Homo sapiens: one gene and its partners. The main gene of each other region encodes a partner of the protein of the gene in region 2 in a complex. Each region holds a gene or a part of one and is shown on either strand. Other genes may lie near its edges. A codon is read from its position in the direction of its gene.

Region 1 (3,750 bases), on a different chromosome or scaffold from region 2:
TCTTGACAAAGATTTGCTTCCCTTGCATTCTTCCCCTTGATGCAAAATAACTGCCTTTTATTGGACTACACCCAGTTTGACTCACAGAACTTGAAGAAATTATAACCTAGATGACTAGATGAACACAGTAATCTCCATAGACCATAGGAGATTGCAGTGGATGGCAAAGTGTTACTAAACAAAAGGAGGAAAGGTCAGATGGAAAGCTGTACACTTACGTCCTTCTCCTGGATGGTGCACTCCTTACAATAATAGGCATCAGAGACCCCAGGTCCTCCACAGATCACACAGCGCCCCTGGTAAGATCCATAGTTACACTCATCACATATGCGCACCAGAGTGCAGGGACGCACATAGGAGTCACAAATCACACACTTGCCATCACCTGTAAGGAAGAGAATGGAGTCATGCTCACAAGTTCTTCAGTCCTCTGCTATCTCCTGCCATGGGGAAATATACTAGTCTCCTGGGAAATACACTAGTCTCCTTTTGACAGTGACTTTAGGGCCCTCCTCTTGGCATCACAAAACTTGGTTTCCCCAGTGTCCATCTCAAGCCCCTCAACACATACAAAAGTTTACCAATTAACATATGTGAAGAGCTTAGAAAAGCACCTCGGAGATGATAAGCCTGTATAATTGCTGGCAAAGTGCTGTGTGTTGGGGAGGGGTCATGCTACTCTGGCGATTCTTCCCGTTGAAAACTAGAGAGATACAGCGTTAAATGTGCAAGCGGCAGTGGGGAGTTAGAGGGGCCTTTGGCTAAAGTGCAGCATTCAGTGTTCACATACTTCCAGGCACATCTACTCAAAGCCCTCTTTGTGGCACTTTTGCTGGTTCCACAGAAAACTGGGAGTGGGAAGGGTGGGTTGTTGGGACGGTGTGTTCCACTCACATTTTTCACACAGTCTTCCGATGGCTGCAAGATGAAAGATGGTAAAAAGTACAATTAGAATAAAGGTTTTGAGAAAGAGGAGAAGTACATCCTCGAGCTGGGGGTAGGGACATGAGTAAGGACTGCAGTGAGTGAGACCTGCGGATAGCCATTTTATCATTACAAATTTCCATATGAACCAAACCTACATCCAAGCACCCTCCTGAATCTCCTCCAACGCCCTGGGCAAGCTCAGAGTTTCTCTGGACCTGGTTCAGACCCCACCCCCCGATACCTGCCTGGGGCTCCCAGCACGCGCACCCCCGCCCTCTTCTCATCAGAGGCCACAAACCTGCGCGCTCCTACAACACCCCGCGCCTGAGAGGCGGGAAACGTGGCGCCTGCGAGGCAAGCCCCTAAGGAAGAGACGGGAACCCCCGACCCCCCAGCTCCTAATACCACCCCTGCCCAGACAGCCAGGGGTAGGGCGCAGTCTCACCAACACCAGCCTGCTTGCGGCAAAAGATCAAATCAGGATGATGTTTAGCCATAGCTCCTAACTAAGCCGGCCACCGGAAGCTTCGGGAACTTCCGTCCGACCTTTAACCCCCATTGTTCCTGCCTCCACGTCGCTGTGATTGGTTCTCTAAGCTTCCGTCAGTTTACAATCCTTGCACCAGGCCCGTCTTGCTCTCGCGCGAGTTTTTGTCGCTGCTGGGCGGCCAGGTCCTGGCAGGTGCATGAAACTCTTAAAAACTCTCCCAGATTTGGATGGCGGAGATAACTAAAATTTGTTCTTGGGTAAAACATCTTTGTGCTTGGTATCTATTTCTGCAAGTGTCTTTGGGCAGTCCGATTTCCTCTTGCGTGTCTGTTCGTTGCACGTGAGCTCCGCCCATTGCGTTCACAGGGTTCTGGCGCCTCTAGGGAGGCCTCGCCTTCACCGTGACGCCCCACTCTTCCGGGCACGCCCCTGCCCAAAGGCTTTAAAGGCGCCGTGTGGGACGTCACTTTAATGCGACCTCATCTTTGTCAGTGCACAAAATGGCGCCCTACAGCCTACTGGTGACTCGGCTGCAGGTGAGCGAGCTCAGGGACCTCTGGGTTCACGGGGGCGGGGTGCCTCCTACTGTGCCGGCGGCTGTGGGCGAGGCAGGGCGAGGCGGGCCCAACCTGGGGCCAACTTCTCGTGTACCTGTCCCGGTTGTGGGCCCGGCACCCGTGCCCGCTTCTCTGGTGCCCTAGGTCAAGGCGTCCCCGGCACAGTCAGCTTTCCTGGCCCTGTCCCTGCCTCGCAAGAAGCGTGGGCCCAAGCAGCGGCGGCCGGGTGAAGAGCGGAGGCACCTCTTTCTTCTTTTTGAGGACAGCATTGCCTGCTCCCGTGGGGTGTGTTTCCATTCCTCAAGGTGAGGACAAGGTGACTAGGGGGCGCGGTCGTTGTTGAGTCTTCTAGGCCCAGTTCCTGAGGCCTCACTTCCCATCTCTTAGCAACAGAGGCATGACAGCATCTACGGTTGCCAGGCCTGGAGTCTGGAGAAGAAACTAGGACCCTGTACCACCTTTTGAGGACCCTGCGGAACGTGGAATGTCGGGGAGGGGGGCGGTCTTCTGGGCCCATACGTAGTAAATAATATAATAATAGTCTCTCACCTTTGCACAAGATTTGAGGCCTGTTTTAATTCTTCATAATATTATTTGATTCCTGTAATCGTAGGAATGAGGTGGTTTTTCTCATTTGATAGATGATAAAGCTGGTAGAAAGTAGGTGAAAGTTCTGATTCTCAAGAGTGTCACCGAAGTGCTGTGGCAGAAGCATGGGCCCTACCACCACTCAGTTCTTGTTTATGTCAGCCTGCCCTCACAGAACTTTATGAACCACGGTGCAATTATTTCTGTTTGTCAGAATGCAGTACGAATATTTTGAGCCTCACAATAAGTTGCTTGTCAAATATGGGAGGATAAGGAGACTCCAGTTTGACCTTGACTCCCCTGTTAGGAGCTATCTAGAAAGCTGACTGACTGCCAGATGATTTTTTCACTTCTAACTTGACAGCCCTGGGAAGGTGTTATACTCAGAGGTTCAATGTCAAATGTGTACTTTGTTAATAAAAATCAAGCAAGCATCTGTAGACATTCTCTGTCAACCTTTCACATTTAACTTTGTGAATTCCTTTTGGATCAAGTGGCGCAACTTTGATAATAGAATTTTACGAGTTGTTATGCGTTGTACTCTCAGGAAGCTTGTGGTACTTGAACTTATTTTTCATCACATTGCTTAAATTTAAACTTGAACTTATTTTTCATCACATTGCTTAAATTGAAACCATATGGTTTAAAGTAAAATCATCATTTATCTGAAAGAAAATATTTCTGATCTCAATTCCGGGCTAAGGGAAAGGATTTGCACCTAATTATCTCTTTACATCTTTTTTTTTTTTTTTTTTTTTTTTTTTTTTTTTTGAGACAGTCTTGCTCTGTCACCCAGGCTGGAGTGCAATGGCGCAATCTTGGCTGACTGCAACTCTGCCTCCTGGGTTCAAGTGACTCTCCTGCCCTCAGCTTCCCGAGTAGCTGGGATTACAGGTGTGCACCACCATGCTTGGCTAATTTTTGTATTTTTAGTAGAGACGGGGTTTCACCCTGTTGACCAGGCTGGTCACAAACTCCTGACCTCAAGTAATCGGCCTGCCTTGGCCTCCCAAAGTCCTGGGATTACAGGTGTGAGCCACCACACCTGGCCTCTTCACGTCTTTTGATTCTCTAGGTTAATGATGTGGAAATAGTTGTTTCTTCCTGTCTCATGATTTAAGGGAGTCAGGCAAGATTATTTGATAAGATAAATGATTATAGAGTTCTTGAACTTGGAAGAGAAGAATA
Region 2 (3,750 bases):
TAAAGTGCCAATACCAGATTTCAGACTTGGTTTAAAAAAGAGAGAAAAAAAGGTGAAATAGCTCAGCAATTTTTATATTAACTACATGTTAGAATGATTTCAGATATACAGAGTTAATAAAACATTAAAACTGGCCAGGCACGGTGGTTCATGCCTGCATTCCCACCAGCACTTTTGGAGGCCAATGTAGGAGGACCACTTGAGGCCAGGAGTTCAAGACCAGTCTGAGCAACACAGCGAGACCCTATCTCTATTTTTTTTTAAAGAAAAAAAAAAAACATTAAAATTACTTTTTTCCTGTTCGTGGCTACTAGAAAATTTAAATTACACCTGTAGTTCACCTTACATTTCTAATGGATGGCATGGTCTAATTCTACCCACCAGCTTGATACAGAGGATACAGGAACTTGAACACATAAGGAATGACTTTATTAAGTCCAGAAGGTGGGAAATTCTACAAGACAAATGATCTGATCTTGTAATACTTCAAAATGGGGTAGAACAGTTTAAGAGACATAAAAAGAAAGATGAAGGAAATGGAAAAAGCGTAGACTGCTATGCTGAGGTCCTGAGCACAACCAACTATAAAGCCACATTGGGGGAAAGAAGAACAGGGAAAACTGGAACATGGTAATAAGGAACTATTGTTATATTTTGCTGAGCATGATAATACTAGTATCTTACAAAAACAGACATCTGTTGGAACTACATTATCAAGTATTTATAGATGAAATGATAGATCTTGGATTTGCTTTAAAATAGTCCAGGGAAAAGATAAAATAAGAACAGCAGAATGTTGCTGATAGCTGTTAAAACTAAAAAAGAAAAAAATAGACCGAAAACCCATGTGGCAGCCCATAAAAATCCAACAAAAGAAAAAAAACTAAAAAAATAACAACAACCCTCTCCCAAAAAAACTGGGTACATGGAAGTTCACTGTATTAGTCTCTCTAACTTCTGGCTATGTTTGAGATTTCTAAATTAGGAAGTAAAATTAAAAAGCAAAAAGTACCTGGGCTAGATTACTTAGATGTCTGAGTCAATAATCATTAAGGAAAATGAAAAGCATATGATCAAGAATCCTGACACTATCTTAGCGTTAAAGCACACCTTTTCTTCACGGCACAAAGAGCTCAGCAACTTTGACAACAGGGAACATTTAGGGGTCCTTTATTGCTAATGAAGCCAATTATGAACTGAGAGGTATTCATTGCTGCTTTTGAAACTAGTGAATAGTGGGAACTACAGTTGATCCTTCAGGAACCCATCCAGTTCTGACTTAGAGTAGCTATCAAACAGCATTTATCAGATGTGAAGACTCTTTATCAAAATATTTCTTTCTCAGCCTGATTTGTTCGAATTAAAGAGCTGAGAAAAGTGGAACCCAGAGTGACACTGTTCACTTTTCATAAGGTGAGGATCTGAAACCATGGGCAGAGAAAATCCCTGTTATCAAACAAAGGAGTGTGTGAAACGTACAGAAGGCCTAATGTCCACAATGTGGGCCTCTGGATCTCTTACCTGTAGCCCAATATTCAGGTATAGGAAGCCAATCGAGCCCCTCTCACCCAGCTCATCCTGCTTCTCAGTCCCACCCATTTCCACGATACACAAGGACTCAGGCTGGGCTGGGAGAGCCTGCATGCTTAGAGGTTGCAAACAGTCCTGAGAGGGAGAGAAAAATCATAAAAACACAGAAAATGACAATTTTAGGAAAAAAACATACCCAGAGAAATCTAATTCTAGGATTGAAAAAGTACTTCCTTATGCACAGAAAAAACCCGGGGAGTGAGTTCTAAGAGAGTACTGAGTTATTAGTTACACCCAATTTCAGAATAAGCTTCGGGAAGATCATGCTTTCCTCCTTTTGTCAAAGAAGATAATGGCAAAGGTAATTAAGCAAAGCACACCTCCTGAAAAGTCACCTAGGGTCCTGCAGCAAGTCAAATTTATGCAGTCTTGGTTGTTAACTTAAAAAAAGGAGTTGAGGCTTAAGCCAAAGAAACATTTCTGTAGTCTCAGATCATATCCTTAAACCACAGCAGGAAACTCCTGAAACACACTGCAATGACAAGAGAAGCAGCAGGTATGGATTCTGGGTTCTAACCCAGCTGATCTCAGAGATAGACATCAGGAGTGGATCTCAGAGATAGACATCAGGAGCCAGATGCTCAGGTTCCAACCAGATGATCCTTGAAGCTCAGAGTGTCACTCACTGAGGGATCCAGGGAGATGATTCTGACAGTGTTGTCCACAAGCCCCACAGCCAGGAAGCGAGACCGCTGCTCTCCAGGGGGTACATTGGCCAGACTCATGCACACCACATCTGCTGACATCTCCTTCCGTTCTGTGTACTCATTCAGCTGTCCTGACTACAGGAGGAAAGACACAGCAAGGTCAAAACTACAGAGGGATGGGTCTAGATGCTCCAATTCACCCCAAAACCCTGGATCCAGAGAATGAAGGAGGGCTGTTGTATTTTGTTCTGCTTCCTCTCACTCCTCTTACTATAGTAAATGACAAGAATTTATCTACCTGAGTTCTCAAGACTGAAGTTAACAGGCTCACAGCAAGCAAAATGAGTATCTTCCATCAATAAGAGAATGAACAGACCTTTGACAAGGTCAATGTGCCACAAATTTTCTGAGCCAACTTTGTTCTCAGGAAATGGAGACATATAAAACTGTCTGTGTTTTACAAGAATATTCTGGGTGAAGGGAATTCAAATATGGTTAAAGACAGAGAAATCTCAACCAAAGGTACAGGCAGGCTACAAATTTGGCCACACTAGAGACCTCCTGAGAGCAAGAGAATTAAGTGTACTGAACATCCTTCCATATAGAAGTTTTCTGAAATGGATTCAGACTGCAGAAATTAAATCTATGCCAAATATTTGTTGGAAAAGTAGAGAGTGAAATGCAGGAGGAGCAAGTGTTTCACTGCTAAGAGGGGATTTCATAACTCTACCTAGAATTAGACATCAAATTACCCCTTTTCCCCATCTCTGTAAGGGACCAAACTGGTTTGTGAACACTGTCACTCCAGCTCGCTTTTTTTTTTTTTTTTTTTTTTTGAGACGGAGTCTTGCTCTGTCGCCAGGCTGGAGTGCAGTGGTGCAATCTCAGCTCACCGCAACCTCTGCCTCCCGGGTTCAAGCAATTCTCCTGCCTCAGCCTCCTGAGTAGCTAGGACTACAAGGTGCATGCCAACACGCCCAGCTAATTTTTGTATTTTTAGTAGAGACAGGATTTCACCATACTATCATCTAAATGACTAGACTACAATGCCCATCTTTCCCTCTGGTCCCTACAATAAGTCCCACAGTGAATGATAAAATAACATACAGGATCCATCTCGAAATAGACCAGCTCTCCTCCTGTCAGGGCAATCACCACTTGTCGCTGGTTCACTGCACACTTCACAATTGTTTTCTTTCCAGGGGTCTTCCACTCATTGACTCTCTTGTCTGCTCGTATGTGCCGAATGCCATCTGGATAGACCTAGAGTCAGTAACAGAAAGAAACCTGACTTTAACAATTTGATTCATCACTCAGAATGACCCTCACATCTATCAGATCTGTCACTAAAATCAGACCTGGGGCCACTGCATTTGAGGCACCAGTTGAATCAAAGACAAAAGAGTTAGTAGGCCTCAGGCAAGGTCAACTTTTAAATAGTTCATGTTTTGCAGTGTCCACTTCAAAGAAGTTCAAAGCTTATTAACAAAACACTTATAAAGATCTTTATTAG
Region 3 (3,750 bases), on a different chromosome or scaffold from region 2:
TCATGGTATTACAATCTGAACAAATTCATAAAATCAGGAAAGGGGGAAGTATACAATGCTAGCTGGTAGAGCTAACCTTACTTTTGATTTTATTCGTGTTAAGTACTGTTTACATTTTTCATAAAATTATATATTACTTTAACACCCGAAGAAACAATCACCGTATTTTATCACAAGATTTTAAAAAACAGTTAAAAATACTGCAGTTTTCCCTTTACACATGGAATACATTCCAAGAACCCCAGTGAATGCCTAAAAACAGAGATAGTACCGCACCGACATACACTGTTTTTTCCTATACATACATACCTATGATAAAGTTTAATTTATAAATTAGGTACAGTTAAGAGATTAACAACAATAAAATAGGACAATTATAGCAATATACTGTAATAAAAGTTATATGAATGTGGTCTCAAAATACTGTAATAGTTTCAGACTGTGGTTAACCTATGGCAACTAAAACCACAGAAAAGAGGAAACTACCATAATGTCAAAAAGTGACAGATGTTTTTAAAACATGGCTACAAATTATTTAATAGTCTTTTTTCTTGAGTGTGGGCTGGACTTAATGACTTCCTTCTAATAGAAGAAAGTGGGCTGGGCATGGTGGCTCATGTTTGTAATACCATCACTTTGGGAGGCTGAGGCAGGAGGATCACTTGAGCCCAGGAATTTCAGACCAACCTAGGCAACACAGTGAGACCTCGACTCTAAAAAAAAAAACATTTTAAAATATATATTAACAGGGCATGGTGGTGCACCCATAGTACCAGCTACTCAAGAGGCTGAGGTGGGAAGATCGCTGAGGCAGCAGTGAGTTGAGTTCGCACCACTACACTCCAGTTTGGGCAACAGAGTCAGACTCTGTTTCCAAAACAAAACAAAACAAGACAAAAAAAACCCCATAAAGAATAAAGTGGAAGTGACAGTGTGTAATTTCAGAGACAGTCATAAAAAGCACTAAAGCTTTCTCTTTGCTCTCTTTGATCACTCACTGTGGGGAAAGCCAGCTGCCATGTGGGTAAGGACAGGCAAAGAGGTGAAGAACTGAGGCATCCTATCTACATCAAAGTGACTGATGTTGGAAGCAGATCATCCAGCAACAGTCAAGCCTGCAGATGACTGCAATCTCACGAGCGCCTAAGCCAGAACTACCTGACTAAACTGCTCCTGATTTCCTGACCATAAGGAACTATGTGATAATAAGTGTTTATTGCTTTAACCTGCTAAGTTTTGATTTGTTACATGGTAACAGATAAATTTAAAAAATGAAATGTGGTCGGGCGTGGTGGCTCACGCCTGTAATCTGAGCACTTTGGGAGGCCGAGGCAGGCGGATCACGAAGTCAAGAGATCAAGATCATCCTGGCCAACATGGTGAAACCCTGTCTCTAGTAAAAATACAAAAAAAATTAGCCAAGCATGGTGGCGCGTGCCTGTCGTTCCAGTTACTTGGGAGTCTGAGGCAGGAGAACCACTTGAACCTGAGAGGCAGAGGTTGCAGTGAGCCAAGATCAAGCCACTGCACTCCAGCCTGGTGACAGAGCGAGACTCCGTCTCAAAAAAAAAAAAATGACTTTATTGGCCAGGCACAGTGGCTCACACCTATAATCCCAACACTATGGGAGGCCAAGGCAGGTGGATCACCTGAGGTCAGGAGTTTGAGACCAACCTGGCCAATATGGTGAAACCCCATCTCTACTAAAAATACAAAAATCAGCCGGGCGTGGTGGTGGGTGCCTGTAATCCCAGCTACTAGGGAGGCTGAAACAGGAAAATCGCTTGAACCCAGGAGGCAGAGGTTGCAGTTGAGCTGAGATTACGACACTGCAGTCTGGCCTGGGTGACAGAGCAAGACACGCCCGGCTAATTTTTTGAGCTAGTATGGTATCCTAGAAAGAAATGGCTTAAGGTTAATAGGACAACTGGGTTCTGGTCCTGTCTGTGTTAACTCCCACTGTGGTCCTGGACCTAACATCTTTTCTTGGAGTCAATTTCCTAATGATAAGATCAGGTTGAATTTCTGATTTCCAAAATTATTTTCTGAACTTAAGTTTAACATGATATGTCCAAAAGTGTTCTGAGATCAGGTATGTTGGGGAATTTCTGGGTTTAATGAAGTTAAACAAGATTCGTTAAAGACTTTTCACATCCATGGCCAGACGAGGTGGCTCACGCCTGTAATCCCAGCACTTTGGGAGGCCAAGGAAAGCGGATCACTTGAGGTCAGGAATCTGAGACCAGCCTGGGCAAGAAGGTTAAACCCCGCCTCAACTAAAAATACAAAAATTAGCCAGGCGTGGTGGTGGATGCCTGTAATCCCAGCTACTCAGGAGGCCAAGGCAGGAGAATTGCTTGAACCCAGGAGGCGGAGGTTACAGTGAATGGAGACCACGCCACCGTACTCCAGCCTGGGTGACACAGCCAGACTCCCATCGCAAAAAAAAAAAAAAAAAAAAAAGGACTTTTCACATCCTTTGAAGTGCTAATGAGTGGTCTATATATTGAGAGGAGGGGTACTGGTATGTAGTAGGCAGATTTTCCAAAACTGTTCTGGAACCAACCTCTTGTAAAGGTTTCCAGTGATTGTCTATCTTGATAACCATATATGGCAAGACCTCCAGTACAAAAGAAATAACTGCTTCAATTAAGAATGAGAGAATAATAGTACTTACATCAACTGCAGCATCCTCATCATCTGAATCTTGTAGACCAAGAGCTGCTTTTTGTAACTTCTTCCTCTCATTAGCCAAAGCTTGTTCTGTTTCATCAAACTTGAATCCCTTACCAGAGAACCCACTACTCTTTTTAATTATTTTCCCCTCCTTTCAAAAAAAGAAAACGAAGTTAATCTCATAGTAAAAACTTTAATGTTTAGGAATTCATACTAATTAAATATTTTTCAAGGTGGTGTATGTCAATGTAATAAAAACACTTCATCTAGCATGTAAGATAAACTAAGAGCTCTACATAGACACCACAAAATACTAAGTTCAAGAATAAGATAGGATTTTAGCTTTCACTCATTTTTCCCTCTAGAGAGAAATAAAAATAGTCGTAGCAAAATTTTCAAGTGTTAAATAAAAGATTTCCAAGAATTAAATAATCAAGGTTTAGTCACATTAATGATTTCTAGAAGAGTAACATGGGTTAAAAACTCACAGCTTTCTGCTGATCTTTGAAATCACTCCACAGTTTCTCTAAATCAGGAGGTACTGCAGTCCCTGACAATTCAAGAGCTTTAATTATGTCACCAGCATAGCGAGCTTGATCCTCTGTGATAAAAGTATAAGCATAACCCTAATGCATGATGAAAAAGTACAATTATTAGACACTAACAAGATGGATCCTACTTAGATCATAAGATAAAATCTGATCCACCTAATAAATCCTCGAGATTGACAACATTAACTAAAGAATTTTAAAAGCCACGAAAGAGTCTTACTAAATTACTTAATGGTTCAAAGTGAAATATCCAAGTTTAATTTTTATTTTTTGTTGTTTTTTATTTTTTTGAGATGGAGTCTCACTCTGTTGCCCAGGCTGGAGTGCAGTGGCGCAGTTTTGGCTCATTGCAACCTCTGCCTCCCGGGTTCAAGTGATTCTCCTGCCTCAGCCTCCCGAGTAACTGGGATTATAGGCGCCTGCCACTATGCCCGGCTAATTTTTGTATTTTCACTAGAGACATGGTTTCACCATGTCGGCCAGGCTGGTCTCAAATTCCTGACCTCAGGTGATCCGCCCGCCT

Evidence for each region.
Region 1: the proteins of SF3B3 (region 2) and PHF5A are in contact, whole or in part, in a crystal structure (PDB 7B91), measured with the Homo sapiens proteins. Residues at the interface, in NP_036558.3 of Homo sapiens: Gly85, Arg86, Gln104, Glu105, Thr106, Phe107, Gly108, Lys109, Ser110, Leu140, Ile154, Ser155, Ser156, Pro157, Glu159, Ser1162; in NP_116147.1 of Homo sapiens: Gln14 (codon at 1,385), Ala15 (codon at 1,382), Gly16 (codon at 1,379), Val17 (codon at 1,376), Arg44 (codon at 332), Asp47 (codon at 323), Glu79 (codon at 227), Asp81 (codon at 221), Arg82, Asp83.
Region 3: SF3B3 (region 2) and DDX46 share a complex: the UniProt entries of both Homo sapiens proteins name them as parts of the 17S U2 SnRNP complex.

The regions. Positions count from the first base shown.
Region 1 is NC_000022.11:41,467,230-41,470,979, forward strand, and holds the start of PHF5A (PHD finger-like domain-containing protein 5A), read right to left. Parts: upstream 1,464-3,750; 5' UTR 1,425-1,463; coding exon 1,373-1,424; intron 919-1,372; coding exon 895-918; intron 386-894; coding exon 219-385; intron 1-218. Other genes in the region: ACO2 (aconitate hydratase, mitochondrial precursor), read left to right, coding at 1,918-1,953.
Region 2 is NC_000016.10:70,554,801-70,558,550, reverse strand, and holds part of SF3B3 (splicing factor 3B subunit 3), read right to left. Parts: intron 3,501-3,750; coding exon 3,345-3,500; intron 2,373-3,344; coding exon 2,217-2,372; intron 1,666-2,216; coding exon 1,522-1,665; intron 1-1,521. UniProt on the Homo sapiens protein: Component of the 17S U2 SnRNP complex of the spliceosome, a large ribonucleoprotein complex that removes introns from transcribed pre-mRNAs.
Region 3 is NC_000005.10:134,810,773-134,814,522, reverse strand, and holds part of DDX46 (probable ATP-dependent RNA helicase DDX46), read right to left. Parts: intron 3,303-3,750; coding exon 3,165-3,302; intron 2,828-3,164; coding exon 2,678-2,827; intron 1-2,677. UniProt on the Homo sapiens protein: Component of the 17S U2 SnRNP complex of the spliceosome, a large ribonucleoprotein complex that removes introns from transcribed pre-mRNAs.